Linked DNA regions of Homo sapiens: regions 1, 2, 4, 5, 6 and 7 are each linked to region 3. Evidence: fine-mapped QTL for protein levels in blood plasma. Region 3 holds a variant in brackets. A gene starts in each other region. All regions are shown on their forward strands.

Region 1 (4,000 bases), not on the chromosome of region 3:
TATTTTTTAGTGAAGGCAAAATATTTTGCCTTATTTAAATTGTATTTCTTTTTATATTGTTGATGTGTAGGAATTATTTATGTATTGTGGATGCAAGTTCTTTGCCAGATAGATGTAAAGTGAGAATATTTCCAGGGTTATCTATTCATTTTTAAGTGATGTCTTTGTTTAGTAGACATTTTTAATTTTGGTGATGTCCAATTAATCAATGTGTCCCAAATGGCTATTTTTTTTTGTGTCCTAGCTAAGAATTTTTTTTTTTTGCCTGTCCAAGAGCATGATTTATTTATTTATTTTTTGCCTGTTCAAGGGTCTTCTCTGTATTTTTATGAAATATTTACGGTTCTAGCTTTTATGTTTAGGTCCATGGTCTATTGTGAATTGATACTTGTATATAGAACAAGGCAAGGACAAAGTTCTTTTTTCTGCTGCTGCTTCTTCTGTAGAGGTACCCAGCTGTTCCAGCAATGTTTGTGAAAGACTGTTTTTTCCCCACTGAATTGACATGGTGCTTTGTTAAAAAAATCAATTGACTAGATATGTGTGGATCTATTAGTCTACTTTCTATTTTGTATGTTTGTATGTTTCTGTGAATATCACATTGCCATAATTACTATTGCCTTATTATAAATCCTCAAGTCAGTATAAGTCTCTCAACTTTGTTCATCTTTGTCAAGATTGCCCAGACAGGCCGGGCAGGTGGCTCACCCCTGTAATTTCAACACTTTGGGAGGCTGAAATGGGTGGATCACCTGAGGTCGAGAGTTCAAAACCAGCCTGACCAACACGGAGAAACCCTGTCTCTACTAAAAATACAAAAGTAGCCAGGCGTGATAGTGCATGCCTGTAATCCCAGCTACTCGGGCGGCTGAGGCAGGAGAATCGCTTGAACCCGGGAGGCGGAGGTTGCAGTGAGCCGAGATCGCGTCATTGCACTCACTCCAGCCTGGGCAAGAAGAGCAAAACTCCGTCTCTGTCCGGACAATCCTAGATTATTTGCATTTTCATATGAATTTTAGAAACAGCTTCTTAATTTCTTTGAAAAATTTTCCTGGGATTTGGATTGAATTGTATTAAATATATAGATTCTGTAATATATAGAGTCTAAAAATATACAGTGTGGAGAATAGATGTCTTAAGTCTTCCAATCCGTAAACGTGGTATATCCCTTTATTACTTAGATGTTTCATCTCTGTTAGCAATATTTTGTAGTTTTCACAGGAGATATCTCATATATTATCCAATGAATTTATACTTTGGTATTTTGATTTTTAAATGCTATGGTAAATGGCATTTTTAACAAACTTCACTTTTCAAGTTTCCATCTCTAATATATAGAATTGCTATTGATTTTTATATTCCATGATCTTGATAAACTTAATATTTCCAGTAGTTTTTTTTTTTGTAGATTTCAAAAGTTGGTCTACATATAATTATGCTCTCTGTTAAAACCAGTAGTTTTAATTCTTTCTTCTCAATCTTTATGCTTTCTAATTTTATTTTTATTTCTTCACTTGTTGCAAAGCAGTTGTCCCAGGTGGGAGCCAAAATCCTTATCTCATTACTAATCTTAGGAAAAAGTAAAATGTTTCACTATTATGAGGTCACCTGTAGGTTTCTTATAGATGTTCTTTATCAGATTAAGAAAGATCATTTCTACTCTCGGTTTTCTGATCGTTATTAATTCAGAAAGGGTGTTGAATTTTGCCAGATGCTTTTATTTGCATTTATTGAGATAATTACATATTTTTATTTATTATGTGGTGAATTATCTAAATTGGGTAAAAAGAATTAAAATCATTGTCCAATTGAACATTTTGCCTGTCGGCTATGGGTTTCCCTTTTCCTTTGGTTAAATAACAGTTCTGCCACAAAATAAAAATCTAGAAACACACATTCCCCTTTGGCCTCCTTAAAAAAAATTAAAACTTCAACAATTGCACCCCTCTCTATTACTTCCCTATAGTGAACTCCCATCCTTCTGGGAAAGCAAAAAGCCTGGGGCGCATTTGTGTACTTGAGACGCGGAGCCCCTCTCACCTTCGGCATCCCCCGGGGACCCCTCTTCCACCCTCAGCCCTCCCCTCCTCTTCCTCTGAAGAGCCGGGCGGCCGCTGCGGCCAGCGGTCCTCCCTCCTGGCATCCTCTGCTGTGAACCGCGGCCTGCAGGGTGCTTGCGAGCGGCCCGGGCGCGCCCCCTTCCGGCCCCGCAGGTCACCCGGCTACAGCCCGGGTTTTCCCGGGACCCGCGCCGCGCGGCTGGGCAGGAAGCGCCAGACGCCTGGGGCCCACGCCGTCCGCGGGAAAAGGGCAAGGCGCTGGGTTTTCCAGCAGCAACCTTTGGACCCCGCGATCCAGTAGCTCCGGTAACTCCACGCGGGGCGTCTGGGTGGAGGAGCCGGTCCTGGAGCACGGCTGCGAGGAGCACCCGGACCGGAGGGTCCCCAGACCGGGACCTCCGAGTCAGGGAGGATTCTACGCCAGGGAGCGCCCCAGACTGAGAGCGCCCCAGACCGCTACACTCCCGGACCCGGAGCTTCGCCCGACCGCGGGCAGTGCCCACCTGCAGCCTCCACCGGCCGGGGTTAGCAGCCAGGAGCTGCCAGACGCCTGACATTCTTCTTTCTGTTCCTACTTTTTTTCCTTCTTCTTCTTTTTTTTTTTTTTTGTAGCCCTCTCTGGGTGCCTTATCTCTTTAATCACACCTCTCTTTCACTTTCCACGGTAGTCAGGAGGCGGAGATCGCTGCTTCTCACCTACTTTCTGAACTTGGCCTCCGCAGTCGCGACCTGGCGTGAAGGAGGAGCTGCCGCCCCCGCCCCAGCCTCGGGGACGCCTCTCTGAAGGTAAGGGTGGGCTCCGCTGCCACCCGCATCCCCTCCCCACCCCCCAGAGGAAGGGAAGACCACCATCCGGGGAGGGATTCTCAAAACAAGATCAATTAAGAGAGAGAGAGAGATAGTGTGTGTGTGAATACGTGTGAATAATTGATGAGACAGCATCCTGTCTTTCTCTGAAAGTATAGTTTTAGAAATTAAGACATCCCCAATTATTTTCTGGAGAGGTGAGAACGACTGAAATAAATGATAACAATAGTTGTCATTTTTTAAGTGCTTACTGTGTGCCTGACACTGTAGAAAATTTTTAGATATCTTATTTTCACTTAATCCTCCTAAGGGCCACATGAAATAGGAACTATTATTATGCTTTAATAAAAGGGAGGAGGAATTCCGTCATTTACCCAAGAGTATCCAGCTACTAAGTAGTAGATCCCAGATCCACACCTACAGTTTTTCTGATTCCAGAGCCTTTGTCTTTTTTCTGCCCAGCCTTGGGAAGTTAAAATGCCCAGCACCTTGCATCGCAGTTATCAGACAAATTAATGAGGTGTCAATTGCAGCCAGATACAGAGATCCAAGATTATTGTATTCATTTCACTGACTTCCCTTGCTTCATTCTCAAGACCCTTTGCAAATACTGATTTTGTGTCATACACAGTGCTGCTATTGGGAGCACACCTCTCAACCTCAGGGCCTTGGATGGGCTAGGAGGGGTAAATTTGGGGAATTGGGTTTGTGCAGGTTCTGGGGACAGTGTTTTCCCTCTCCCTGCACAAATATACATCCAAAGGCTGAGAACTAAGGCTAAGGCCTAGGAATGTGGATTGAAAAGGCAGGGTCTAAATCCCAGCACTTGGGAGGCTGAGGTGGGCGGATCATGAGGTCAGGAGATCGAGACCATCCTGGCTAACATGGTGAAACCCCGTCTCTACTAAAAATACAGAAAATTAGCCAGGCATGGTGGCATGCATCTGTAATCCCAGCTACTCGGGAGGCTGAGGCAGGAGAATCCCTTGAACCTGGGAGGCAGAGGTTGCAGTGAGCAGAGATTGTGCCACTGCACTCCAGCCTGGGCGACAGAGTGAGACTCTATCTCAAAAAAAAAAAAGAAAAAAAAGAAAAGGCAGGGTCCCTGCCTTCAGGGACCTCACCAGAGAGTG
Region 2 (4,084 bases), not on the chromosome of region 3:
TGTTGTGTACTGGGCTGGCGAGGCGAGCTTCAGCAGCGTCACGTCATTGTTCATGGTGGTAGAGTTCCAGCTAGGGTGTGTAATGGCCTGTGGGGTCAGAAACAGTCCATGTTCTGATGGGTGCTGAGCAGGGTAGGCCAGGGCATGTCCTGAATTCCTCGTTCCCAGCACCCACCCACCTGCACTGCCCACTTTTCCTCCGTGTCTGCAGCCCAGGCACTCACCCGAGAGACGGACAGAACCTGCAAGGGCTCTGCGTTTGATGATCGGTCATACTCGCCCAGGACAACAAAATGGCGGCCAGGGCTGCAAGGGGGTGGGATTAGGCAGCTGCAGGGAGGCCAGCGCGAGAGGGGGACAGCCAGGGGAGGAGGCAGGAAGAGGCGAGGGGCGGGGCAGGTGGAATGCAGGCACTCACCTGACATTGCAGTGGGCAGCAGTGACCACCCAGGACTGGCTGATGAGAGAACCACCGCAGAAGTGGAAGCCGCTGCTGTCCTGTGGTCAGGGCTCAGAGGTCAGAGTGGGGGTGGGCTGCTGAGGCTGCCCCTAGGCATGACGTACCCAGGACCCTGCCCACCCCTCTGGTGGTGTACCTGCAGGGACACCTGCCAGGGCCAGGAGCCCAACACTGCATTCTCCCCGTTGACAATCCTCTGGCTGAAGCTCAGTGCCGGTTTGATGGCAGGAATGCCGCAGCCTGGCCATTGGGCTAATGAGGACCTGCTTCCCATGCCTCAGCCCATCTTTCCCCACCTCCTTTTGGGTGCCCCAGGCTGTGCACCCCAGAGAGGTCTGTCGAGAGGGTACAGCACTACCCCTTCCCCAACAGGGTACATGCAAGCACCTTCGGGCCCCACAGCTATCTTGGTTATCCCTATCCACCCAGTCCCCCAGCCCTGCTGTTCTCCTACATCTGTCTCCAGCCTAGTCCCCGCTGTTCCCCATCTCTACCCCTGGTCTCTCTGCCCCCTCCCGACCTGAACAGTTCATACCCTTCATGCAGCCAGAAGGTTCTTTCTAAAAGACATGGACAGGTCTTCCTGTCTCAGCTTCCTAAACCCTCCCGGGCTCCAGGGCCTGGCTCAATCTCTGGTCCTATTTGTGAGACCACCCCACCTCTTGCCCCCTCCCAGCCCTGCAGGCCTGTTCCCTGCTCCACTGCCCTGGCATATCCTGTTTCTTTTGCCCACTCTGTCCACCTTCGTCCCTTCCAGCCAGCCTAGCTCCTTCCCTGGGCTGTTGCTGGGAGCTGAGTTGCTCCCAGGGCTGAATCAGGGCTGGTCCTGGCCCACTCACCCCAGGAGGAGCCGAGGAGAACCAGGCTTAGGGTCAGGCTGAGCAGCAACATCGTGGCAGATGTGAGGTTGGGAGCTGGGTCTGGCTTTATGGGTCTTCTCGTCCTTGAGCTAAAGCTCCAGGCCTGAGGCCAGGCCAGCTGTGTAGACTCAGCCCCCTCCCACGCTCCAGGCAAGACAGGCCCTTTAGGCCAAGGTCCCCTGACCGAGACCTAGACTTATCAGACAGAGCCCAGGTGTGAGACTCACCTCTGCCACCTCCCAAAGCCTGGCCTCTAATTGGCTCCCAGAACCACCTCCCATTCCAAATGTTGAGCCCTCGGTACTGAGGACAGATGGTTAAATTAGGTCTATAGTGACAACCTGGTGGCTGGGATCACAGGAGTCACCCAGGGCTAACAAAGGCACCAGGCTTTCAGAGAAGGCCGCTCAGCGTCCAGGGTGTTCTGACTGGTGGATGGAATGCTCACTGCGGTCAACTTTGCTGTGAAGGGCCAGGGGCTGTGAGGTTCTGGCAGGCTGGGAGTCCTAACACATCATCGCAGTGGTTCCTCGTCCATTTGGAACAGGAGTCACAGGTCTGCTCAGAGATGGTGACTCTCCCACCAGCACGTGGTTGAGTTGTACACAAACTCGCATTTGTCTGGCGCTGAAGCCTCCGCTCTTAACAATGAGATGATACTTATGAAGGGCCTGGCATTTAGGAGGGCAAAGTGTGAGCTCTTGGTGCCTGGCCGACCGTGGACTGAGGCTGCAGGTGGAGAGTGACAGACATCAAATCTCTGCCACCCTCTTTAGGCCTTGGGGCTCCCATGGGCAAGCCCCTGGTGTCTGTAGCCCATTTGTTACTGAGCTGCAGACCAAGCTTGAAGGGAGAAGACACCCTGTGTGCAAAGTTCCAACAGGTGCATTGGCTGGCGGCCTTCTGGGAGTGTGAGGGCTTTAACTGATTCAAGAACAGATCAGGGCTGGGTGTGGTGGCTCACACCTGTAATCCCAAAACTTTGGGAGGCAGACGTAGGAGGCTTGATTCCAGGAGTTCGAGACCAGCCTGAGCAACATCATGAAACCCTGTCTCTACAAAAAAAATTTTTTTAAATTAAGAAATGAGCTGGGTATGATGGTACACACCTGTAGTCCCAGCAACTCAGAAGGCTGAGGCAGGAGGGATCACTTGAGCCCTTAAGTTCAAGGCTGCAGTGAGCCATGAGTGCACCACTGCATTCCGGCCTGGGCGATGGAGCTAGACCCCATCTCAAAGAAACAGCATCAGCCAAAAAATGAGATGAATTGGCTGGGCACGGTGGCTCACGCCTGTAATCCCAGCACTTTGGGAGGCCGACGCGGGCGGATCATGAGGTCAGGAGATCAAGACCATCCTGGCTAACAGGTTCAGTAGAAACCTCGTCTCTACTAAAAATACAAAAAAAAAAAAAATTAGCCGGGCGTGGTGGCGGGCACCTGTAGTCCCAGCTACTCGGGAGGCTGAGGCAGGAGAATGGCGTGAACCTGGGAGGCGGAGCTTCCAGTGAGCTGAGATTGCGCCACTGCACTCCAGAGCCTGGGTGACAGAGCGAGACTCCGTCTCAAAAAAAAAAAAAAAAAAAAGGAGCGATGAATTAATGGATAGAGGGATGAATAGATGATAAAACAAATATAACAAAATATTTGCACTCCAGAGCCTGGGTGACAGAGCGAGACGCCGTCTCAAAAAAAAAAAAAAAAAAAAAAAAAGGAGCGATGAATTAATGGATAGAGGGATGAATAGATGATAAAACAAATATAACAAAATACTGTCAGGTCTGTGGTGACCTGACAGTATAAGGGTATTCAATATACAACTCTTTCTACTTTTCTGTTACATTTACAAATGTTCATTAATAGAATGTTGGGGTGCAGGGAGCACACTCAGCGGCCTGGGGATGTGCAGCCCGGCATAGACCCTCCCTGGGCCCTGGGTAGACTCTCCCTGACATTTCTGAAGCTCCAGCGGAGTTCAGCCGTTCTCGCTGAGGACAGGATGCTCTTGCTGGCACCCAGCAGCCAGGCCTGAGACTCAGCAGGGGCCCAGCAAAGGTTTGTTGGAGAAACGTGTCATCTCTCCCCATGTGAGTCCTGTGACCCTTATTAGCCTGGAAAACTTGGAGTCACAAGCCCAGCATGTGCAGACAGAAGACGAGCTTCACGTGAGCAGTGCAGGCATGCCTCGTCATCTAAGGGGTGTCACAGGTAAAGATGTTGCGAGGTTGAGGAGTGCTTGGTGAGAACTTGCCTTGGAGTCAGGGAGCGGCTCCTCTTGTCAGCACTTTAGCCCTCAGTGGGGCCTGTGGGGGCCTGATTGAAAGGTATGAGCTTTGTCCTGGGCCACTGAGGAGCCATGGAAAGTCTCTAGGAGGGGGTAGTACATGGGGTATTTCATAATTTACAAGTCTCCAGTGGACTAGAGGGCAAGAGCAAGACAGTGGAGTGGTGGGGGAGCCTTCAAGTGTGGAGTCAGAAGGAAGGTTTGGGTGGAGACCAAGCCTGCAATGCTGGCCAGGGCTGGGGTTCTGGAGTTGTAGGTGCCTGAGGTTATGGGTGAAGGGCATCTCTTAGGCCAGACACTAGAGCTATGGTAGGTAATGGCCCCTGCAGGGACGCCTTAGCTACAGAGCCCTGCTGGCTGCCTGCCCACCCCATTCCACTCAAGAATGACACAGCCATCTGTTTAACTGTATTTTCTGGGTTTATTCCCCCTTGTTCCAAGCTCTAAGCCTCAGCTTACTCCACCTCCATAGCCTGCACAG
Region 3 (4,074 bases):
ACATAACACAATTATTATTGTAGTCATTTCAACTGTACAATTCAATGGCTCTAAACATATTCACCATGTTGTTTAACTATCACCACTCTGTATTTCCAGAACTTTTCATCATCCAACATCCAATGGGCTCTGTGCCCATTAAACAATAACTCTCCATTCTCCTCCATCCTCCACCTCCCACCCCTTAGTAAACTCTCTTCTTCCTATGTCTCTGAATTTACCTATTCTATATACCTCACATAAGTGGAATCACATAATATTTGTCCGTTTATGTTTGGCTTATTTCACTTAGCAAAATGTTGAAAGGTTGTACATATAGCAGGTATCAGGATTCCTTTTTACGGCTCTATAATATCCCACTGTATGTTCATACCACATTTGTTTATCTGCTAACAGACACCTGAGTTGCTTCTACTTTTTGGCTATCATAAGTAAAACTTCTTTGAACATTGTTGTACAAATATGTGTTTGAGTCCCTAATTTCAGTTCTTCTGGGTATATACCTAGAAGTAGAATTGCTGGATCGTATGATAATTATAGTGTAACTTTGTGAGGCATTGCCAAGCTGTTTTCCGCAGTGGCTACACCATTTTACATTCCCGCCAGCAATGCCCGAGGGTTCCAATTTCTCATATTCTCACCATCACTTGTTATTTTCTGTTTTTTTAAAGTAATAATTCTTTTGGGTGTGAAATTCTATTTCATTGTAGTTTTGATTTACATTTCCCTAATGACTAATGATGTTGAGCATCTTTACATGTGCTTAGCTTATTGGCCACTTGTATATCTTCTTTGGAGAATTATCTGTTCAGGTCCACCGACCATTTTGTATTTGGTTTTGTTGTGGTTATTGAGTTGTAGTTGTTAATATATTCTGGATATTCATCCCTTAATCAGATATGTGATTTACAGATATTTTCTATTTTGTGCTGTCTTTTCACTTTCTAGATAGTGTACTTTGGTGGACACAGTTTTTAACTGTGATAAAGGCCTTTTTATCTACTTTTTTATTGCTTGTGTTTTTGGTATCCAATCCAAGAAATCATTGTCAAATCCAATGTTGTGAAGATTTTATTTCCTGACGTTTTCTTCTAAGAGTTTTATAGTTTTTAGCTCTTATGTTTAGGCATTTGATCCACTTTGGGTTAATTTTTGTATTTAATGTAAGGTAAGAGTCCAATTTCATTCTCTTTCCTGTGGATGGCCAGTTTTCCCAGCACAAATGCTGTTCTTTCCTCATTGAATGCTTTTGGCACCTTGTTGGAAATCAACTGCCCACATAGGTTTATTTCTGGCCTCTCTATTGTATTCCATTGGCCTATATGGCTATCCTTATGCCTGTACCACACTGTTTAGATTACTGTCATTTTGTAGTATGATTTGAAATCAGGAAGTGTGAATCGTTCAACTTCATTCTTTTTCAAAATTGTTTTGGCTGTGCAGACTCCCATGAAATTCCATATGAACTTTAGGATGGGGTTTTTCATTTCTGCAAAAAAAAAAAATCATTGGGATTTTGATAGGGATTGCATGAATCTATAGATTATATTGGATAATATTGACATCTTAACAATATCAAGTCTTCCATTTCATGAACACAGGGTATCTTTTCATTTATTTAGGTCTTTTTCTTTCAGCAACCATTTGTAGTTTTCAGTGGACAAGTCTTTTGTCTACGTAGTTAAATTTATTCCTAAGTATTTTGTTCTTTTTGATTCTATTGCAAATGGAATTTTCTTAATTTTATTTTCAGATTGTTCATTACAAGTGTATCAAAATTCAACTGATTTTTGTGTTTTGATTTTGTGTCCTGCAACTTTGTTAAATTTGTTAGTGCTACAGTTTGTGTGTGTGGTGTGTATGTGTGTGTGTGTGGCGTGTGTATGTATGTGTGTGTGGTGTGTGTGTGTGGTGTGTATGTGTCTATTGTGTATGTGTATGTGGTATTTGTGTGTGGTGTGTGTGTGTGTGTGTGTGTGTAAGCTTTAGGACTTCCTACATTTAAAATCAGGCCATCTGTGTACAGAGATAATTTCACTTCTTCCTTTTTAATTTGGATGCTTTTATTTATTTTTTTCTTTCCTACATGCTCTTATTAGAACTTCCAGTACTAAGTTGAAGAGAAGTGATGAAAGCAAATAAAAGCACCAATCAGAACACACAGTCCTGACATTTGGAGGGCTAAATCCTTGTTGCCCGGCCTGGCCTCACCTAGCTGCACTGGGCGTGTGGGCTGCTTCCCCCTTCACAGCTGCCTGACACAGCCATAACCACAGGGAGAAGCTGAAATTCGCTGAAATGTACCAGCCTCTTTATCAAGCTCTCCCTTGGATGCTCCAAGTTTCTGACTAGACTAGTTCCCAAATACAGATGGTCCTTGACTTAGGATTGTTAGACATAATGATTTACCCACTTTATGATGATGTGAAATAGAAATGGTGCATTCAGTAGAAAATGTATTTCGAATACCCATACACCCATTCTGCTTCTCACTTTTAGTACCATATCCAATAAATTACGAGATACTCAACACTGTATTATAAAATAGGTTTTGTTAGATGATTTTGAAATAGAAGAGTTCCCTTATGACCCTCGCAGGGGGTGCGACAGGAATGAGGCTTGCTCCTTTGGTGCCCTGCTGCTCAAACCCCTAGGGGGGAGCATGCAGCATGCAGATGGGCAGGTGCAGAGGCTGTGGGGAGTGCTTTTGGGCTCCACCCCACGGCAGCATCTAGGACTCCTGAAGCCCAAGTGGGCGTGTGTTACA[G/C]TGTGCTCTTTCAGCTATACCATCTGCAGACAGCTTGTGTTAGTCAGCTCAATAGACCCTCTGCCTTATCACAAGGACAGGGAGGCAGTGTGACAGCCTGAGTTCTTGCCCAGTGTACTGGAAGAATCAGATCACATGTGGGCTGGAGGGTTGAGTGCAAGGTTTTATTGAGTGGTGTAGGTGGCTCTCAGCGAGATGGATGGGGAACTGGAAGTGGGGAGTGGAGTGGGAAGGTGGTCTTCCCCTGGAGCCAGGCTGCCTAACCCCCCAGACTATTCTCCAACCACTGCTGGCCAAACTCCCCTTGGTGTCCAGATGTCCTTCTTCTCTCTTTCTCTGCTGCGCCACCCCACTGCTCTCCACTGCTCTATTCCTTCACTCTTCTCAATGTTTAGCGCTTGTGTCTATGCCCATTAAGGTCTCAGGTTTTTATGGGCACAGGATGCGGGGTGTGGTGAATCATAGTGGTCTTGGAAATGTAACATTTGCGCATGAAAACAGGAGTGCCTGTTCCCACTTAGGTCCGTGGGCACAGGTCCGAGGGTGGAGCCCTCGCCAGGGATCCTGCCCTTCTCTACCTAGCACTTCTCTGCCTCCTGTCCCTATCAATTTTGCCCAGTTGGAAGCTAATGTAAGTGTTCTCAACACGTTTAAGGTAGGCTACGCTGAGCCGTGATGTTTGGTAGGTCAGGTGTATTAAGTGCATTTTTGACTTAGCATATTTCAACTCACATTGGGTTTAACAGGGCCTAATTTGATCATGAGTAGAGGAGCACCTGCAGTTACTTCAGTCAGTTCCTGTCCATTTGATGGCTGCTTAGATGGAGGGATGAATTCCTGGAGTTTCCCACACCACCATCTTCTGTGACATCCCTTCCCCAAGATTTGGATTTATTTTTTGCCCCAGTGGCCTCTTGTAGCCTGATAAATCTTTGTTTCAACGAGGTCAAGGTCATGGGGTAAATTCTTTGTGGGGTGGTTGGCTGCATTTTGTTTAAACTTCACAGATTTTAGTACTGATCCTAATTTTTAATTTTACTAATGTGATATACACACTTATGTAATTAAAAAACAAACCCTGGGCCAGGTATGGTGGCACACGTCTGTAATCCCAGCACTTTCAGAGGCCAAGGCGGGCGGATCACTTGAGGTCAGGGGTTTGAGACCAGCCTGGCCAACATGGTGAAACCCCGTCTATACTAAAAATGCAAAAAATAGCTGGGCATCATGGCACGCGCCTGTAATCCCAGCCACTTGGGAGGCTGAGGTAGGAGAATCGCTTGAACCCGGGAGGTGGAGGTTGCAGT
Region 4 (4,077 bases), not on the chromosome of region 3:
AGCCAAGAACGCCCTGTCGCCCACGACACGTTGCGTAGGCGCAAGCTGGAAAGTGCAAGTCCTGTGGCTTCCAGAGGCAGCGGAGGCATGGTGCCGGTTATCTTTAGGTCCTCGAGCGTCAGTTCCTTGAGGCGGGAGTACGCTAGCACACGCAGGGCGCCTACCAGTAGCTGAGCAGGAACCTGTGCGGCTCCCACTGTGAGCCGCCGCACGCGGAGAGCCTTGACCGTGTCAGCATACTGCCGCGGGTCGGCGTCCGCATCGACGCGCTTTAGAAACGGCTCTAGGTTGAGACCGCCGGCATGGATCTCCACCTCTACTGCAGACACACACTGGAAGGCTTCGGACCAGTCGGGCTGAGGTTCGGAGAAGTTGCAGACGCAGCGGAAATCTTCATCGTCCAGCTCACAAGGTTCTGGCGTGGTCGCAGAGACGTGCACCAGCGGCAGCAGCAGCAGCAACAAGCAGGACGCGCGCTCCTGGGGAGAGAGCAGAGGTCTAGGAGGCCCCATCCAACCCCTGTGGCTCCCGAGTGGCACGCGTTCGACCCCAAGACCCTACACTCACCATGGTCGATAAGTCTTCCGAACCTCTGAGCTCCGGACAGGCTCTGGAAGTGCTTTAGCTTCTTTCCTACACAGCGGCACCCGCCGGCTTCCAGGCTTCACACTTGTGAACTCTTCGGCTGCCTCTGACAGTTTATGTAATCCTGGGATGTCATTCAGTTCCCTCCTCTGTGAACCCTGATCACCTCCCCACCTCTCTTCCTCCGAGCCAGCCCCCTTCCTTTCCTGGAAATATTGCAATGAAGGATGTTTCAGGGAGGGGGACCGTAACAGGAAGGATTCTGCAGGGCATCTAGGGTTCTGTGTCTCCTGGCAGTGTCCTGATGACTCAGGCGCCCCAGGCGGTGAATGCCCTGTTGACTCGGGAGCCTAAGCCTTCTCTGGTGGGTGTGGGAAAAGGATGATCCTCAGTGCCTTAGGCCAGTACCATACTCTGCACTATCCAACCCCCCAATCCCCCTACCTTATATCCCAGAGAATCTACTTGATTCATTTCTTTGACTTCTTCCTTGTCTTGGTTTATGTTGATCTCCTGCCACCAAATCCAAGTCCCTGAATATCCTCAGATATTTAACTGCATGTTTTGTGGAAGAGATTGTGAACCTCATCTGTTGGCACCAAGGGGGGTAGAATTAGGTTCAAGAAAAGGAAGTTGGTCTAAAGAAAAATTCCCCCTTCCTTTTTTTTTCCTTGCTCCTTTGATTAAGTAATAACTTTCTTTCTTTTTTTTTTTTTTTTTTGAGATAGAGTCTTGCTCTGTTGCTCAGGCTGGAGTAGAGTGCCATGATCTCGGCTCACTGCAACCTCCGCCTCCTGGGTTCAAGCAATTCTCTGCCTCAGCCTCCCGAGTAGCTGGGATTACAAGTGCCCACCACCACACCCAGCTAATTTTTGTATTTTTTAGTAGAGACAGGTTTTCATCATCTTGGCCAGGCTGGTCTTGAACTCCTGACCTTGTGATCCACCCGCCTCGGCCTCCCAAAGTGCTGGGATTACAGGCGTGAGCCACTGTGCCTGGCAGTACTAACTTTCTTAAAAGTGGATGTATTTAACAGAGACACATTGGCCAAGTCTCTGGGTCACTTACACTATCCATTTTCTGTCCTGAAATTGTGAAGCAAGGTATTTTGAATCAGTTTTCCCACTTGCACGTTGCTCTCTCCTGCCCTCCCCTCAGTACAATCTCTGTGCCCTAGGAAGGAAGGGATGGGACTATGTTGAATGAGGATTAATTAGTAACTCACCAGTTTCGCAAAAAACAGACAAAAACAGAAAACAAAACAAAATGAAAAAAACAGCAAACAAAACAAAACAAAAAAACAACAAATGTCCCAGAGAATAAGGAGCTACGCATTTACAACAGCCCTCACAGGTCCACATCCCTAGACCTCTGGGGAAAGAACTATATGAAAGTCTTTTTTTTTTTTTTTTTTTTTGAGACTGAGTTTGGCTCTGTTGCCCAGGCTGGAGTGCAGTGGCGTGATCTTGGCTCACTGCAACCTCCGCCTCCCAAGTTCAAGCAATTCTCTTGCCTCAGATTCCTGAGTAGCTGGGATTACAGGAGCCCACCACCATGCCCGGCTAATTTTTGTAGTTTTAGTAGAGACAGAGTTTCACTATGTTGACCAGGCACTCCTGACCTCAGGTGATCCGCCCGCCTTGGCCTCTCAAAGTGCTGGGATTACAGGCGAGAGCCACCACACCCGGCCTGAAAGTCTTTTTTACTTTTATTTATTTATTTGAGACGGAGTTTTGTTCTTGTTGCCCAGGCTGGGCGCGATCTCAGCTCACTGCAATCTCCGCCTCCCAGGTTCCAGCAATTCTCCTGCCTCAGCTTCCCGAGCGGCTGGGATTACAGGCATGTGCCACTACACCCGGCTAATTTTGTATTTTTAGTAGAGATGGGGTTTCTCCATGTTGGTCAGGCTGGTCTCGAACTCCCGACCTCAGGTGATTCACCTGCCTCGGCCTCCCAAAGTGCTGGGATTACAGGCATGAGCCACCGTGCCCGGCAGAAAGTCTTTTTTAAATTCCCACTTCCTCTTTAATTGAGAAAGAAGTAGCTGCAGATTTGTCCCCAATCCAAACAAGAAGGCTCATCACTGCCCCCTGCGGGTCCTGTTGGGCATACCCCAATGCACTGGGCCATGCCCTGGTGCCATGCCAGGCCTCTGTGATATCCCTGAGGACCAAGATATGATTATATCTGACTCAAAGTCAGATAGCCAGTCTTGGAATCCCAGCTTTACGACTGAGGTTATGAGACTTGGGCCTCCCTTCTGTAAAATGGAGATGATAGTATTACCTGTTTGTGAGTAAAGTCTTTGGCACAGAAACACATCTTTTTAGTGTGGTCTTGATGACTAGTCTTCTTTCTCAGAGTCTCTGCTTTCAGAGAACTCAGGCCACTGAAGTCTGACACCTCATCATCTTAGGGGAGGCACTCTGGGTGGGGAGTTCCAAGTTAAGAGGGGCAGTGATGGTTCTGCAAAGATCTCCAACTCACAGCTTGATTCAACAAATGTCTATCATTTGTCTACCGAGTACTAGGGTTGGTAGAAAGCCCTGGGACACAGACATGACAAAGACAAGTCCCTGAAGTGCTCCAGGAGGTGGGTAGAGCAAACATGAACCCAGAACTTCCGTCCATAGTGCAGAGGGCTCTTAAAAGAAGAGAAACCAAAGGCTTGTGTTGTTGGGGGAGAGGGGTGGAGGGGAGGAACATGGTCTGGAGAAAGGAACAGCCAGCCCTGTACAAGACAGGACATGGGGCTGGTTCTTACAGGGTTAACAGTGTTGCTAGACAGGTAGATACAGAAAGGCAATTTGGGCAGCTGTAGCTGTCTGAGCAGACACTGGGCAGAATATAGCTTTTGGCTGGGAACTTTTTTCATCTTCCCCACCTGGAGCACATGTGGGTTTTGTTGTTGTTGTTATTGTTGTTGTTTTAGATGGAGTTTCACTCTTGTTGCCCAGGCTGGAGTGCAATGATGCAATCTTGGCTCATCGCAACCTCCACCTCCTGGGTTCAAGCGAGTCTCCTGCCTCAGTCTCCTGAGTAGCTGGGATTACAAGCACGTGCCACCACACCTGGTTAATTTTGCATTTTTAGTAGAGACGGGGTTTCACCATGTTGGTCATGCTGGTCTCGAACTCCTGACCTCAGGTGATCCACCTGCCTCCATCTCCCAAAGTGCTGGGATTATAGGCATGAGCCACCTTGCTGGGCCAAGTGTGGGTCTTAGAAGCTAGCCTGGGTTAGGTGCAGTGGCTCATGCCAGTAATTCTAGCACTTTGGGAGGCCAAGCTGAAAGGATCATTTAAGGCTGAGTTCCAGGCTGTGATAAGCCATGATTGCACTACTGCACTGCAGCGTGGGCAACCGAGCAAGACCCTGGCTCAAAAAAAAAAATAAATAAATAAAATAAAAATAAAAAAGTTTTTCTTGGGGAAATAAGAAAATAAATTTTTTTTAATTAAAAAATTAAAAAAAGAAGCCAGACAGTTGCAT
Region 5 (4,000 bases), not on the chromosome of region 3:
GGAAAATGGAAAAAAAAAAATGATTTTTTTTTTCCAAACACTTTGTCAGTTTCCCCAGCGGTCACCTTTGAAAAGGGAAAAATGTCTGAAAATAGACAAAGCTGAATATAAACATCATTTAATTCCCCCCACACAGACAGCCTCCGCTCCTGTGAGGGCGTGGGGAAAACGGAGTGGGAGAAGGGGGCTAGCGAGGAGGAAGAGGCGGGAGGTGCGGCAGGGGCACAGGTGACGCTCCTCCCGCCTGCCTAGCAGAGCTCCAGGCGCACATCCGCAGTCAGCCACCTCGCGCGCGCCTCCAGGAGCAAGGATGGAGAGGCTGGTGAGCGGGGCCGGGGCTTGGGAAGGAGGGCGCAGGGCAGGCGATGTTGAGCCGGTGGCCCTGGGGCGGGCGGCGAGTGGAAGGCGCGGAGCTTCGGCTCTTGCCACAATCTGGTCCGGGGACTAGATCAGCGGTGTTGATGGCAGCGCTTTTCTCTAAGCGCTTTCTCTTGCTGAGAAACGGATTTTGCCTTCCAAAGGGTGGTTTACAGGCAGCTGCTGGCGTCCAGATTCTCCATTCCAATTGCCTGAAAAAAAGATGCACCAGGCCGGGGCTCCGGGGGCTCTTGATCCGCGCTGACGAAGCTGGCGCATCCTCCGGGCAGGCTCGGCTCGGCTCACTGGCTCCAGCTCCCAAAACTGGGGAGGCACAGCCTATTTTAAACTGCCCCCAAAAGGGAAAGAGAAATGCTGTATTGGTTCCATATTGGCACCAAAAGCTGCGGCGGAGATACAGATTTCCAGGCTCGCTTTCTCCGGGAGAGCTCCTGCGTCTCCTCTTTGTTATGCAGCCCCTTTCTCCCTCCTAGCCCTTGCCTGGGGGAAGCCATGAAGGATCAGTTAAAGCTGAAGCTACACTTGAGAGAGCTGAAATGCTCTGTGATCATAATGCTTTGAAGGGTTAACCCCGGGTATCTAGAGAAACAGACATTTTGTTTATTCGGAACCAGCTTACAAGACAAAAAACGGAGAAGGTTTTCATATATCCCATTGGTATATGAAATCCAAATACAATGGTATTGGTATAAGAATCCAAATACAGTGAATGCCTCAAGATAATTTTTTCATGTATGGTTTGTTGGCAAGACCACATAGCCAATGATTTCACTGTCTTTCTTAACAAAGGAGAATGGTGGTCTGTGAGCTACGGTCTACTGCAAGCTAGATGCTGTTAATCTTCTTTGTAACTATCCTTCTAAAAATGAATTATTACCTCGTTTTACACATAAACAGGCGGAAAGGCTGATATTTCCAAGTCCTTGTGACTACATGTGGGGTAATGTGGATTTGGACATAGAAACTTGCTGAGGAAGAGGCATGAATAGGGGCAATATAGCTACCAGGTGGGCAGCTGTCTGGTAAGACCCAGGTTTTTGTGAACCCTGGACTGCATGGCAAGGGTTATAAGTGGGCTTCTTTGTTTTCAGGACTGTAGTTCCCCCTATATGATTTGATCGATTAATTTTTTTAGCTACCTAACACGTATTGGCATTTACTATAACCTAGGCTCTATACTAAGTGCTTTAATTGCCTAATTCTCATAATAACTATGTGAGATAAGAGCAACATTTATTTAGTGCTTATTTCTACTGGCAGTATTCTAGGAGCTTTATATACTACTTCATTTAGTCTTTTTAACCATTAGATTGGTACTATTACTTTTCCGGAGTCTCAGAGAGGTAAAATGATTTCTTTTGCTCACAAATCTAGTATTTGTTTTAGCCCCGGTCACCTCCCTGTAAACATATAAATACTGTTGTTTTCAGATTGGTCGTATTTTCAGTTATTCTGCACAGACTCGAGGAAAAAAAAAACCTGTAAAATAAAAATACGTATCTATTTAAGAGTAAGGCTTTCCTTCTGATTTCCTTTGCCTCAATCACTGTGTTTTGTTTCTTAACATTGCTGGCTCCCAGTCCACAATATATGGTTTGGTATGTATCTGCTTTCTCTCTTGTCCTAAAACACAGATTTTCTCTATGAGAGCTTGTCCATTCTGCATTCTTCATCATGGCCTCTGGTAGAGCCTGGATTTCCACGTCAGAGAAGCCTAATGGTTTAAAAAATATCACATAGAATTGGAATGCCAGTATCTGTCTCCACAATTGCCTTAGCTGAAAATAAAACAAAATGTGTTGGGTGGGCACTGGCAATGGAGCCTGAGGAAATATTTGGCCTGATTTTTTCTGACTTTCCTAGATAATTAGATAGGATGGAACAGTCTCAGTAATACTGAGAAAATTATCGAGTTATATATTTTTTTTCACTTCAAAACCAAAGCCTTTGTGAGTATAATACCCAGCAGTGGATGGGCAGGGTGAGCAGATCTTTGTAGGCTGTATGTATTCAGGCAGCTGAACCATCTTGGGTTTCTCAAAGAGCAGTGACTATGTTATTAGTCTTAGACCTATGAAGACAGGAAGAGAAGTCACAAGGAAGGGATAGCATGCTTATGGTATGCTTGGGTATCGAATAATAAAATATATCTGCAAAGAATAATTTGTCCTAATGGCACCTTCAGATGATATAATCTTGAATTCTCTGTAGCCTTAGAGATGTAAGGAAAAAGCAACTTACATCACAAAGATCAGTATTACTGTGTACTATGATGCCACTGCATGGGGTCCAGGATGAGAGTCTAAGTGATTGGTTCTCTCTAGCTGAAGACAAGAAGACACTCAGGTATGTGGCAGCACTTGGGATAGGCCACAGGGCGGCGAGACATCATTCCTTCCAGGACATCTATCCTGAAAGATCCATCAGGAATACTGTGATGGAGATAGTGATGGAGACTCCTTGTCTCTGGCAGTTAGAGTGAATGCTGAAGAAGAGCCCTTTTCCAGCAGGCCAGTCTCTAACATGATCTTGGGTCTTCACCCAGACCATGACAGCTCTGGTGCTCAACACACACAACCACCTCCAGGGTACAAGTTGGCCCCAAGAGAGCTGAGACAATATTGGCTCTAATTTTTATCATCTCATTGATCTCAAACCACAGACTCTGACCAGGACAATTGGGGGCCCTCTCCTTACAGCTACACTCCTAGGAAAGACCACCATCAATGATTACCAGGTAATTTTCTACCCCTACCTATGAAGGGACTTGGTTAGTAACTTCTCTTGCTAGAGGAAAAATGAAGCTTATTATATAAGATTAATGTTTGTGAAACACCTGTTATTTGGAATTGGTTTGGTACTTCCTCTTGAAATTTCCCTCATTAAGTTTAGGTCGTGGCTGTTTCATAAGGAAAGAAAAGGGCATGTATTGACTGGAATTAAAATTAACAAATCCATTGAGTAGGAGGATATTAAAATTGAGTGGCTCCCATTGGACAGGAAAAGGAAGAGAAATCCTTGTGGCAGGTAAAGGAGGAGAGATTTAGATCCTTGAGAACTCCATTCCCGACCCGCTGCTCCTGAGCCCACAGGAAGAAGGCCATCACAAGACAATAAAAATCCCAGAGAAATTGAAAGGCAAACAGAAAGACCCAGCTTGGAGTGATAAGGAAAATGAATTCCAGCAGGGAAGTCATTGTATCTAAAAGGAATGGCAAAAATAGGGCTTAGTTAAGGCAAACACCGAGAATGAGGGGATGGGATTCCCACAGGTAGAACACCACCCTTTAGCAATGATCCTGACCCTAAAGCAAGGTCATTTAAGTGATTATGGGCCAATATTCTAGAAATAAGCTTCAAATTATAGTAGCAACAGATGGGGCTAAACAGGAGCCGATAAGAACATACAAACAACTTCAGAAAGGGATGCCCGTGATGGGTTCATTAAGGAAAAAGTGGTCAGGACATCCCGCTAAAGCAACAGGATTCAGTGGATATTGAGGTTCTTGGGGGGCAATGAGACAGGCACCAAGAGACCACTACTTTATGGAAGACTATGATCATACTGCTAAATACCATAAAAGAATAGACAGAGCCAAATAAGAGACTGTTTCTAATGAAA
Region 6 (4,075 bases), not on the chromosome of region 3:
GTTCGGCCCTGTTCAAGTCAGCCATGGGACCTCCCCGGCACATGTCAGAGGATGTTTTCCTTCTTGCCTTGAGAGCTGGCCAGGCCCCAGCAGCTTGGGGTGGAAGGACAAGGGGAACCAGACACCGTTCCGTAGCCACCCCTTTTTCATTGTCTTCGCAGCAGAGCGATATGGAGCCTTTGAGGTCTGCTGGAGGGGAGTAGGGGGCTCAGCCCCAGACAATGTCTGGGACCCCCATCACCCGGCTTGCTGAAGCCCTGTCCGCCAAACCCCTGCCCTTTTGAAGGACAGCCAAGCAAAGCTGGGCGGGGCTGGTCGAGGGGAGGGCCAGTGCCCTCCGCTGCCCTGGCCAGCGGGGGTGGGAGCAGAGGGCCAGCTCAGCAGCTGAAGCCATGGAGATTAGAGGTAACTGAGGCTGCGGACAGCCATCGGAGGTGAGAGGTGTAGAGAGAGGCCAGGAACCCCCACCCAAGCAGAGAAGGACAGAGCAGAGGGAGAAATGGGTGCCCGAGTGGGACAGGTGTCCTTGGGGAGGGCTGACACCTGGACGGGGAGGGGCAGCTTCCCTTTCCTCCTGGACTCACAGGCTCTGGGGCTGGGGCTCTGGGGGCCCAGTGGCGGCGGAGACGGCAGTGGCGGCAGCTACAGCAGGTAGGCTGGGTTGGAGCGCCAGGTGCCAGGCACCAGGCAGGCGGGCTGGCAGGGGGGCGGCCCTGGGCGGGCCCAGGATGACTGGCCTCCAAGCCCTGCCTTAATGCCCCGGGGCGGGGTGTGTGTGAGGGCCCTCCCCGGAGGCCTCTGAGGCACTGGCTGCCTGCCTGTGCCACCTCTCCAAGCCCCTCTTCTCCCTGTGTCTCAGCCTCCCTCTGTCTGTCTGTCTGTCTGCAGCCTTCCTTTCCCTGCCCTGAGTCTCTGAATCTGTGTCTCGTTCTATGTGTCATTCCCTGTCATTCAGTAATTCTGACTTTGTGTGATTTTTCTCTTTCTGTCCCTATGTGTCTGTCTGCCTTTCTCTGTCCTCGTCCCTGTCTCCATCTCCACTCTTCTCTCTCTGTCTGGCTCTGTGTGGCCCTTTCTCTAATTCCTTCTATCTTTGTGTCTCTCAGTCAGTCTCTCTGACTGCATCTCTGGCAATTTGTCTTGAAATCCCTCTTCTTCCATCTAATCTCCGTCTCTCTTTTTCCTCCCGTCCCAGCCACTCCCTCTCCACAGCCCCAGCCCAGGTGGGCCCCTGGCCTCCCCTAGGCCGCTCCCTTCTCCTTTGCAAGGAGAGGGGGGGTGTGCTGGGATGTCACACAGGTGGGGCTGCTGCCAGGCACAGGGGCAGGACCGGAGGGTGGGGGAGGCAGGTCAGGGCCTGTGGAAGCCGAGTCCAGGAAAGGGAACAGAGCCCTTGGCTGTGCTCCACCCCAGGGCTCCTCTGGGGCCTCGCTCCTCTGCTGACCCTTCCCCTGCCCGCTTCTCCCTGCCGCCCAGGCAGCCCGAGTCCAGCTGTTCACTTACTGGCTGCTGTGAGACCTCTGCCCGATGACTTCCAGTCCCGCAGCCACCTCAACCTCTGCATCTGCGGAACCCGAGCGCAGATTCCTGCTTCTCCCAGCTTGTTTGTTTTCAGTTAGGTCCCTTCCCTTGGCTTTCCTCCCCTCTCTCCCCTGACCAGGTGTGGAGCAAGGCAGGGGAGGGCCTAGGTTCTGACAGCAGCCAGCCCTGGCCTCAAACCTAGGTGCTTCCTCTTCCTACTACTATGACTACCCTTATGACGTGGGGACAAGGGACTCCACCCCTGCAAGGCTCAGTTTCTTCATCTGAGAGATGGGGGTGACAGACCTGCTTGCAGGGGAGGTTGGGATCAGGCTTCCAGGAGGGTCCACTTGGAAAGAGCAGACTGCGGGGGGGCTCAGCAAATGTGCCTCCGCTGGTATGATCACCCCTCACTCCCTCCCTCCTCCAGTTTCCCTTCAGTGCATTTGGGGAGATGGTCTCTCCTCACCTCTTGAGTCCCAGTGGAGACAGAATCCAAGGGGTGGGCAGGAGGATTAAAGACGTAGGCTGAGCTCTCCTGCTTTCCAAGCCTGCACTCCACCCTTCGTCTTATTAGAACAAAGCCACGTCCCACATTAAAGATACAATGTATGCTTCATTACAAGAAAGTAAACTGCAGTTGGCTAGTGGAAAGAATGCTACGTTTTATGGACATTGGATTAAATGGTCATAAATGTTGACTTTGCAGCTTTCATCTGGTATTTTGGAGCTAACAATTTTCTTTTTCTTTTTCGGGTCTTTTGTGGACTCTTGAAAAGCTTATAAGCTCTGGGCACTATTTCTATTATGCCAGATGAAGAAACATGTGTCTTATTTATATTGCTGGGTTTTTGTTTTTGAGACAAGGTCTCACTTTATTGCCCAGGCTGGAGTGCAGTGGCATGATCTCGGCTCTTTGCAGCCTCCACCTCCCCGGCTCGGGTGATCCTCCCACCTCAGCTTCCCAAGTAGCTGGGACTACAGGCACGCACCACCACACCCAGCTAATTTTTTGTGTTTTTGTAGTGACAAGATTTCACTGTGTTGCCAGGCTGATCTCGAAATCTGAGCTCAAGCCATCCTCCCACCTCGGCCTCCCAAAGTGCTGGGATTACAGGCGTGGGCCACTGCACCCGGCCTATATTATTAAAAGTAACTTTTTCTACTCCATTTCTGAGTAACTACTCAGGGAAGACCCTCATCCTATTTGAGCACTGGGTTTTTTGTTTGTTTGTTTTTGAGATGGAGTCTCGCTCTGTCGCCCAGGCTGGAGTGTAATGGTTCAATCTCGGCTCGCTGCAGCCTCTGCCTCACGGGTTCATGCTATTCTCCTGTCTCAGCCTCCTGAGTAGCTGGGATTACAGGCATGCGCCACCATGCCTGGCTAATTTTTGCATTTTTAGTAGAGTTGGGGTTTCACTATGTTGACCAGGCTGGTCCCGAGTTCCTGACCTCAGGTGATCCACCTGCCTCAGCTTCCCAAAGTGATGGGATTACAGGTGTGAGCCACTGTGCCTGGCCTTATTTGAGCTCTGTTTCTACTCCTATGAGATAGGGAAACTGCTGAGTCCTTCTTCCAGTCTCAACCAGCATGAGGACTTCAAATGGACAGACATGGCCCCTCCTTCATTTATATTTATTCCAGACTATTGCACACTTCTCTCACCCCGCTCGTGGGTCTTAGAAGGGCTGGCAGGAGTTAAAGTTCCAAGAAGTTCCCAGGCCAACAAGAGTGGAGCTAGGGGAAGTGATGGAGGAGATATTGGTGCTCTGAGGGCCAGAGGGGTACCCAAGTTAAGGGGTGGGGGTGGAGGTGGAGGAAACAGGTCAGTTGTTCCTCATGATCATCCGGATCCAGTCCACATACTTGCAAATATAGGTGTAGACTCCAGGGATGCCATCTTGTCCACAGGGCCCCACAGACCCCCAGGACACCAGACCTTGAAGGACTCCCCCACACACCAGGGGGCCCCCAGAATCACCCTGGAAGGGAAGAGAAGTACTGTCTGAACAAGGGAGACATCTTATTTCTGTTTTCCTCCCCAACCCTTCAACCCAGTCCTGGGCCTTGGGGAGGGCTCCAAGTCTGGTCATTAGACAAAAGAGTATAATCACTTTCCCGGAGGACAATGGCAATGGCTAACCAAAAGAGAAGAACCACTGTCTCTAGGGGCCAATCCCAGGGAAGAAGGGTGGAACTCCATAAAGGACAGAGGTTCTCTCAAGGACAATGGCTGGGGCCCTGACCAATGAGGAGAGAGAGCACAGTCATTAATGACCAATCTCAGGGGAGGCTGTCAAGACAACATAAAGAGTCGAGCATTCTCTCAAGGACAATGGCTGGGGCCCTGACCAATGAGGAGAGAGAACACTATTATCAATGACCAATCCCAGGGGAGGAGGGTGGGACTCCATAAAGGATAGAGGTTCTCTCAAGGACAATGCCTGGGGTTCTGACCAATGAGGGGAGAGAGTGCCATCAAAAATGACCAATCCCAGGGAAGGTGGGCAGGACTCCATCAAAAGCACAGAGTTCTCTCAAGGACAATGGCTG
Region 7 (4,092 bases), not on the chromosome of region 3:
CAGGGCCCTCTGCCTAGGAAAACCAGAGACCTTTGTTCACATGTTTATCTGCTGACCTTCCCTCCACTATTGTCCTATGACCCTGCCAAATCCCCCTCTCCGAGAAACACCCAAGAATGATCAATAAATACTAAAAAAATTAAAAAAAAAAAAAAAAGGAAAGGAGATGAAGCAGACCACAGAAAGCTCCTGCACAACATGAGGGTGGCCCAAAGAGAATGCCAGAGATCGGAGGAGGAGCAGGGCCAGTCCTGTGGTGTTCCGGGGAAACGTCACCTTGCAGGGGGCGTTTAAGGAAGGGGGAAGCCACCCATGGGCAGGAGAGCATTTCAGGCCCAGGGAAGAACACGCTTTCATGGAGATGGAGAAGCAGGAAGTATGTTTATGGGGAGGTGGGAGCCTCTTTTGCTTGACAGTGGGATGTGTGGGAGGCACCAGCATGAGAGGTCAGAGGCGGGACTCCCCAGAGGTAAAAGACACTGCAGCTCAAGCCTTGTGCTGCCCGGGGACCCGGCAGAACGGACAGAAGGGAGTGAGCAGGAGCATCCTTCTAGGGGCATCCTGAGTCCAGGGGGTTCTTCTACACCCACCCCAGTCCTGGCTGTGAACCCCTCCAGCAAAGCAGGCAAAATGGAAGAGGGACATAGGACACGGTGATATATCGCTAGCACGGTGCTTCATCTGTCTACAGGCAGTGGACGCAAAGGAAGGGGGATTTAGGGTTCGTGCTCCAGGCTGGTGGGGCCCTGGCTCCCCTCTAGCTTGGTCCCTGACTCACTTGGCCTTCAGATCAGCCACTTCCCATCTCTTAGGATATCAATTTTTCTGACTTGCTTTGTCCTGATTGGTTAAGAAAGAGGCCTCCAAGTTCTTGAATGACAGTCTCTTCCCTTCGCATGCCTGACCCATCACAGATAAGAGCAAGGAGCCCTGAGAAGCCAAGCTCGTCCCTGGCACTGAGAACGGTCTGCAGGCTGCTGCTGCAGGCTGCCCTGTGCCCAAACTCCCAGCCTGCCAACTCTGGCATTCTGCTTCCCTAAGTAGTCCTGGCGTCGGGTGGTCAGACCCTGAGGCTCAGTGACCTCTGCATGACCATGTGATCCCTGGCTTTGTGGGGGCTCAGGGCCCTTTCCTGTAGGGTCATCTGGCACATGGACATGCCTGTGTACCCTTCTTTCGTATGACCGAGAGAAGGGTTCGGTTTTTCCTTCTCTCAGGCAGGATGGGAGACTCTGCCTCGCATGTCTCTAAAACAGGAGAAAGACCAGCTTCCCAGGGGGGCCTCCATCGGAACAGAAGTCAGCCGCTTGCTCTGTGTCTGCGCCTGTCCCTCTTTCCCCAGATGGAGGGGAAGAGAGGAGAGAGGCACAGAAGACAGGTGCAGCCGGGGGGGTGAGGGAGAGCCTGGAGGCGCAGGATGGAAGATGGAGGTGGTGGTGAAACCGCTTTCCTCCTCCCTGTGGTCGGCAGCGATTCATCCACAGGCGCCTTTTTCCACTGAAATGTGAGCGTGGCCAGGGTGAGCGCTGCCCTCGCGGCCGGCCGTGGTGCCTCTGGTGTGCGCCTGTGTGTGCTGCTGCCGCTGTCATCACAGATGCACCCCAGCTGTCACTCCCCGCTCCACTCTGGCTCGCTGCTCGCGCACACGCGTGCGCTCTCCTCCCTCGCCCCTTTCTTCCCTCTCTCCTCTCTCTCTCTCCCTCCATCCCTCTCTTTCCTTCTCAGTTTGTGACTGACCCAGCAGCCCCGTCCCCCGTCTGCCACAAGCAGTCCACCTCCTGGTGCTGTGTGCTGCGTGCCAGCCGCTGCTCCCGCTGAGTGGAGACTCTGGCACCAGTGCCCACTGCGCTCTGCCTGCCGGTGGTGTCTGGATTTCTATAGGAATCCCAGGAGGGTCTTACTGGAGGGTTGAGAGCCACCTGATTGAAGGCGTTTGCAGTCAGAGTAAAGACGGGTGAGTACCGAGTGGCTGGTAGGAAGGAATGGAGGGTTGGTGGGGACAGGGGGTGGTCGGGGCATGGGAAGTGGGCACCGGCCATCTCTGCCCTGCAGGAATAGCTGCAGTTGCTTCCTACCTGCAGGCAATTGCTGGGGCCGAAGAAGCTGCTCGGGCTCAGGCACCTGAGCATCCCAAAGGTGCACGACACTGGGAACTCTGAGCCCACAGTGCTGGGGACAAGAGCTGTGGATTCTGCTGGGAAGTGGGGAGGAGGGCAGCGCTGGCGCCAGATGACAGTCCCGGGTGGCATAGAAACCGGTCCCTGCAGCATGGGAGAAGCAGCCAAGAGCCTTGTGCTGTCGTTGTGCCCGGCTCTGCACAGACAGCCCCAAGAAACTCGGGGGTCATGGGAAGCGGTTGGGATGGCAGTCAGGTGCTGGGGACAGGGCCAGGTCAGAGGAAGGCTTGGGGTGGAGGGTGGCAGGGAGGAGGTCCTGGATGTCAGAGGCATGGGCACAGACCCAGGTCCTGGGCCTCCCTATAGCTTGCCTGCAGGTGGCTGTCCTTGGACAAGGGTGTGGAGGAACCCTCCCCCAGATGAGCATGGGCCCACTCAGCTGTGCATGAAGCCTCCCTGGTGAGGGTGAGGCTGGGAGTGGGCAGGAGAGAGAAGTATCGCAGCCCTTCCCTGCTAGCCCAAGGGCAAGACAGGAGAACCAGGCCCGCGAGAACCTGCTGGGGTGTCCCGCAGCTGTGCACCCAGCCGTCCATCTGCAAATGGGTCAGGGAGCCTTAGTGGGGGCTGGACACTGAGCTTGGGTGGGGGGTACACAGCGGGGCCAGGCCTGCCTGGCTTCTTGACCCACACAGGGGGCATGGACACCCTGAGTAGAGCGGGACAGTTGCTCTCAATCCCCCAGACCCATTTGGACAGTGCTGGAGAGAGGAGCAGCCTGACCAGGAGTCGGAAGTTCACATTCCTGCACCTCCCTGCAGGTCTGGGGCTGGGTTCCAGTTGGCGGCCCTGTCTCTCCCCCACCCCCAAGCTGTCCACATTTCTGGGGGGTGTTGGCACCCGGCTGTCAGGGCTACTTGGGCAGTGTCTCTTTGTGACTCAGATGACACCCCTGCAGCTTAGATAACTGCCTCAGGTGGGGGCGGGGAGGGAGCCGAGCACGTGGAGCTGAGGCGGGGGAAGTCCAGCTGGTAGGGAAACCCGACAGCAGCTTCCGAGCTGCCAAGAAGAGCCCAGCTTTTCCCACCCCCACCTCCCCACCGGCAGAAAGAAAGTCTCAGCACTGCCAAAAGAGGGAGACCAGGAAAGCCAGGCCCGCGGGGAGGGGTAAGGAGAGAGGCTGCTTAAGCAGCCGATCTGGTGTCTTTGGGGTTTGACAGAAGCTTGTCTGGGCCCACGAGGAGCAAACTCTGCTCCCGTTTCCCAGGCACCAGAGCCCAGGGGCCGCCTCTGGGCTGCTATGGCCTCAGTGGGCAGTGTAGGAAGGAGGAGGGGATGGCATGTATGTGATGGTTGGGGGTGTCTGGGAGTTCTGGGGGTGGGCAGAGGAGAAAGGAGCCAGCATAGAGGCTGTCTGCCCCTCTGGTCTTCCTCCTTTTTCCCCCAGCCAAGCCTCCTGTGCCCTGCCTGGGAATACCACCCTGAGCCCAGCCCCAGGGACACCACCCTGAGCCCGGCCCCAGGGCCCAGTGGACACCTTAGCCTCCTTCATGTCAGGGACCAGCTCCCATGAGGGGCCACTCAGGAGGCTTCTCTGTTCTGCTTCCCAGAGGGTCTGTTTGAGATTGAGAATATTTGACAAGGAAACGGGGGTGCAGGAGGCTGGGGGTGAGGATGGGGCATGTGTTTTAAAATGAACCAGGAGGGTATATGGCTGTTCCAAGTACAAATATAGAGATTTTTAAAACCTGGTTCCTTGCTGCCTGGGCAGTGTGTGTGATGGGGGTGATGGGCAGCTGTCCTAGAGGGCCTGGGTGCCCAGACAGGCAGCGGTAGGCGGAGCCCAGCCTAGACGGCTGTGGCAGCCTCCCCTGCGTCCTGGCCACATGGAATCTCGGGCCGTCTTTGGCCCGGGGCTCTGGCTGGCCACTCTCCGGGCTCCCTCTCAGCCTTCCTGGGGTTGGTGGAAGGGCACGGC

Direction of the effects. Alleles are on the strand shown, and positions count from the first base shown. The strength of an association depends on the size of the effect and on how common the allele is.
For the plasma level of the protein whose gene starts at base 2,242 in region 1, G is the low allele of the variant in region 3 and C is the other (weak association).
For the plasma level of the protein whose gene starts at base 1,361 in region 2, G is the low allele of the variant in region 3 and C is the other (weak association).
As copies of G replace C in region 3, the plasma level of the protein whose gene starts at base 674 in region 4 goes down (weak association).
In carriers of allele C in region 3, the plasma level of the protein whose gene starts at base 254 in region 5 tends to be higher than with G alone (weak association).
With allele G in place of C in region 3, the plasma level of the protein whose gene starts at base 663 in region 6 is lower (weak association).
As copies of G replace C in region 3, the plasma level of the protein whose gene starts at base 1,705 in region 7 goes down (weak association).

What was found. A credible set is the group of variants that fine-mapping cannot tell apart. PIP is the posterior inclusion probability: the model's chance that the variant is causal. Protein levels are from antibody-based Olink assays in UK Biobank. Linkage for the fine-mapping came from a reference panel and not from the study's own genotypes, which makes the PIPs less certain.
Region 1: it holds the start of IL18R1, and the variant in region 3 is the best candidate, but not a certain one, in a credible set for the plasma level of the IL18R1 protein (UK Biobank, PIP 0.86).
Region 2: it holds the start of CTRL, and the variant in region 3 is the best candidate, but not a certain one, in a credible set for the plasma level of the CTRL protein (UK Biobank, PIP 0.63).
Region 4: it holds the start of CD14, and the variant in region 3 is the best candidate, but not a certain one, in a credible set for the plasma level of the CD14 protein (UK Biobank, PIP 0.88).
Region 5: it holds the start of CD200, and the variant in region 3 is the best candidate, but not a certain one, in a credible set for the plasma level of the CD200 protein (UK Biobank, PIP 0.87).
Region 6: KLK11 starts here. The variant in region 3 is the best candidate, but not a certain one, in a credible set for the plasma level of the KLK11 protein (UK Biobank, PIP 0.77).
Region 7: it holds the start of LRTM2, and the variant in region 3 is the best candidate, but not a certain one, in a credible set for the plasma level of the LRTM2 protein (UK Biobank, PIP 0.54).

The regions. Positions count from the first base shown.
Region 1 is chr2:102,353,555-102,357,554 of GRCh38, forward strand. IL18R1 (interleukin 18 receptor 1) reads left to right here and starts at 2,242. Exons shown (of 11, transcript NM_003855.5): 1 at 2,242-2,846. RefSeq lists an enhancer at 2,011-2,512 and silencers at 2,107-2,216, 2,237-2,296.
Region 2 is chr16:67,930,502-67,934,585 of GRCh38, forward strand. CTRL (chymotrypsin like) reads right to left here and starts at 1,361. Exons shown (of 7, transcript NM_001907.3): 1 at 1,300-1,361; 2 at 597-700; 3 at 419-498; 4 at 225-306; 5 at 1-87. The coding sequence starts at 1,351. It overlaps PSMB10 (proteasome 20S subunit beta 10), which reads right to left. Exons shown (of 8, transcript NM_002801.4): 8 at 4,005-4,084. The coding sequence ends at 4,059. RefSeq lists enhancers at 1-335, 336-852.
Region 3 is chr10:17,803,426-17,807,499 of GRCh38, forward strand. No RefSeq gene overlaps it. Among named protein-coding and RNA genes, the nearest start is that of MRC1, 3.9 kb to the right of the region's middle. The variant G/C (reference allele first, on the strand shown) is at 2,768.
Region 4 is chr5:140,632,502-140,636,578 of GRCh38, forward strand. CD14 (CD14 molecule) reads right to left here and starts at 674. Exons shown (of 2, transcript NM_000591.4): 1 at 568-674; 2 at 1-479. The coding sequence starts at 570. It also overlaps a transcript of TMCO6 not described here. RefSeq lists an enhancer at 1-318.
Region 5 is chr3:112,332,903-112,336,902 of GRCh38, forward strand. It overlaps CD200 (CD200 molecule), which reads left to right and starts at 254. Exons shown (of 6, transcript NM_005944.7): 1 at 254-322. The coding sequence starts at 311. RefSeq lists enhancers at 1-878, 879-1,835, 2,332-3,091.
Region 6 is chr19:51,025,954-51,030,028 of GRCh38, forward strand. It overlaps KLK11 (kallikrein related peptidase 11), which reads right to left and starts at 663. Exons shown (of 6, transcript NM_001136032.3): 1 at 585-663. It overlaps KLK12 (kallikrein related peptidase 12), which reads right to left. Exons shown (of 6, transcript NM_001370125.1): 6 at 3,141-3,504. The coding sequence ends at 3,349. RefSeq lists enhancers at 1-300, 301-858, 1,418-1,974 and a silencer at 4,007-4,075.
Region 7 is chr12:1,818,861-1,822,952 of GRCh38, forward strand. It overlaps LRTM2 (leucine rich repeat transmembrane protein 2), which reads left to right and starts at 1,705. Exons shown (of 5, transcript NM_001039029.3): 1 at 1,705-1,954. The region is part of intron 26 of CACNA2D4 (calcium voltage-gated channel auxiliary subunit alpha2delta 4); the gene reads right to left. RefSeq lists an enhancer at 1,275-2,021.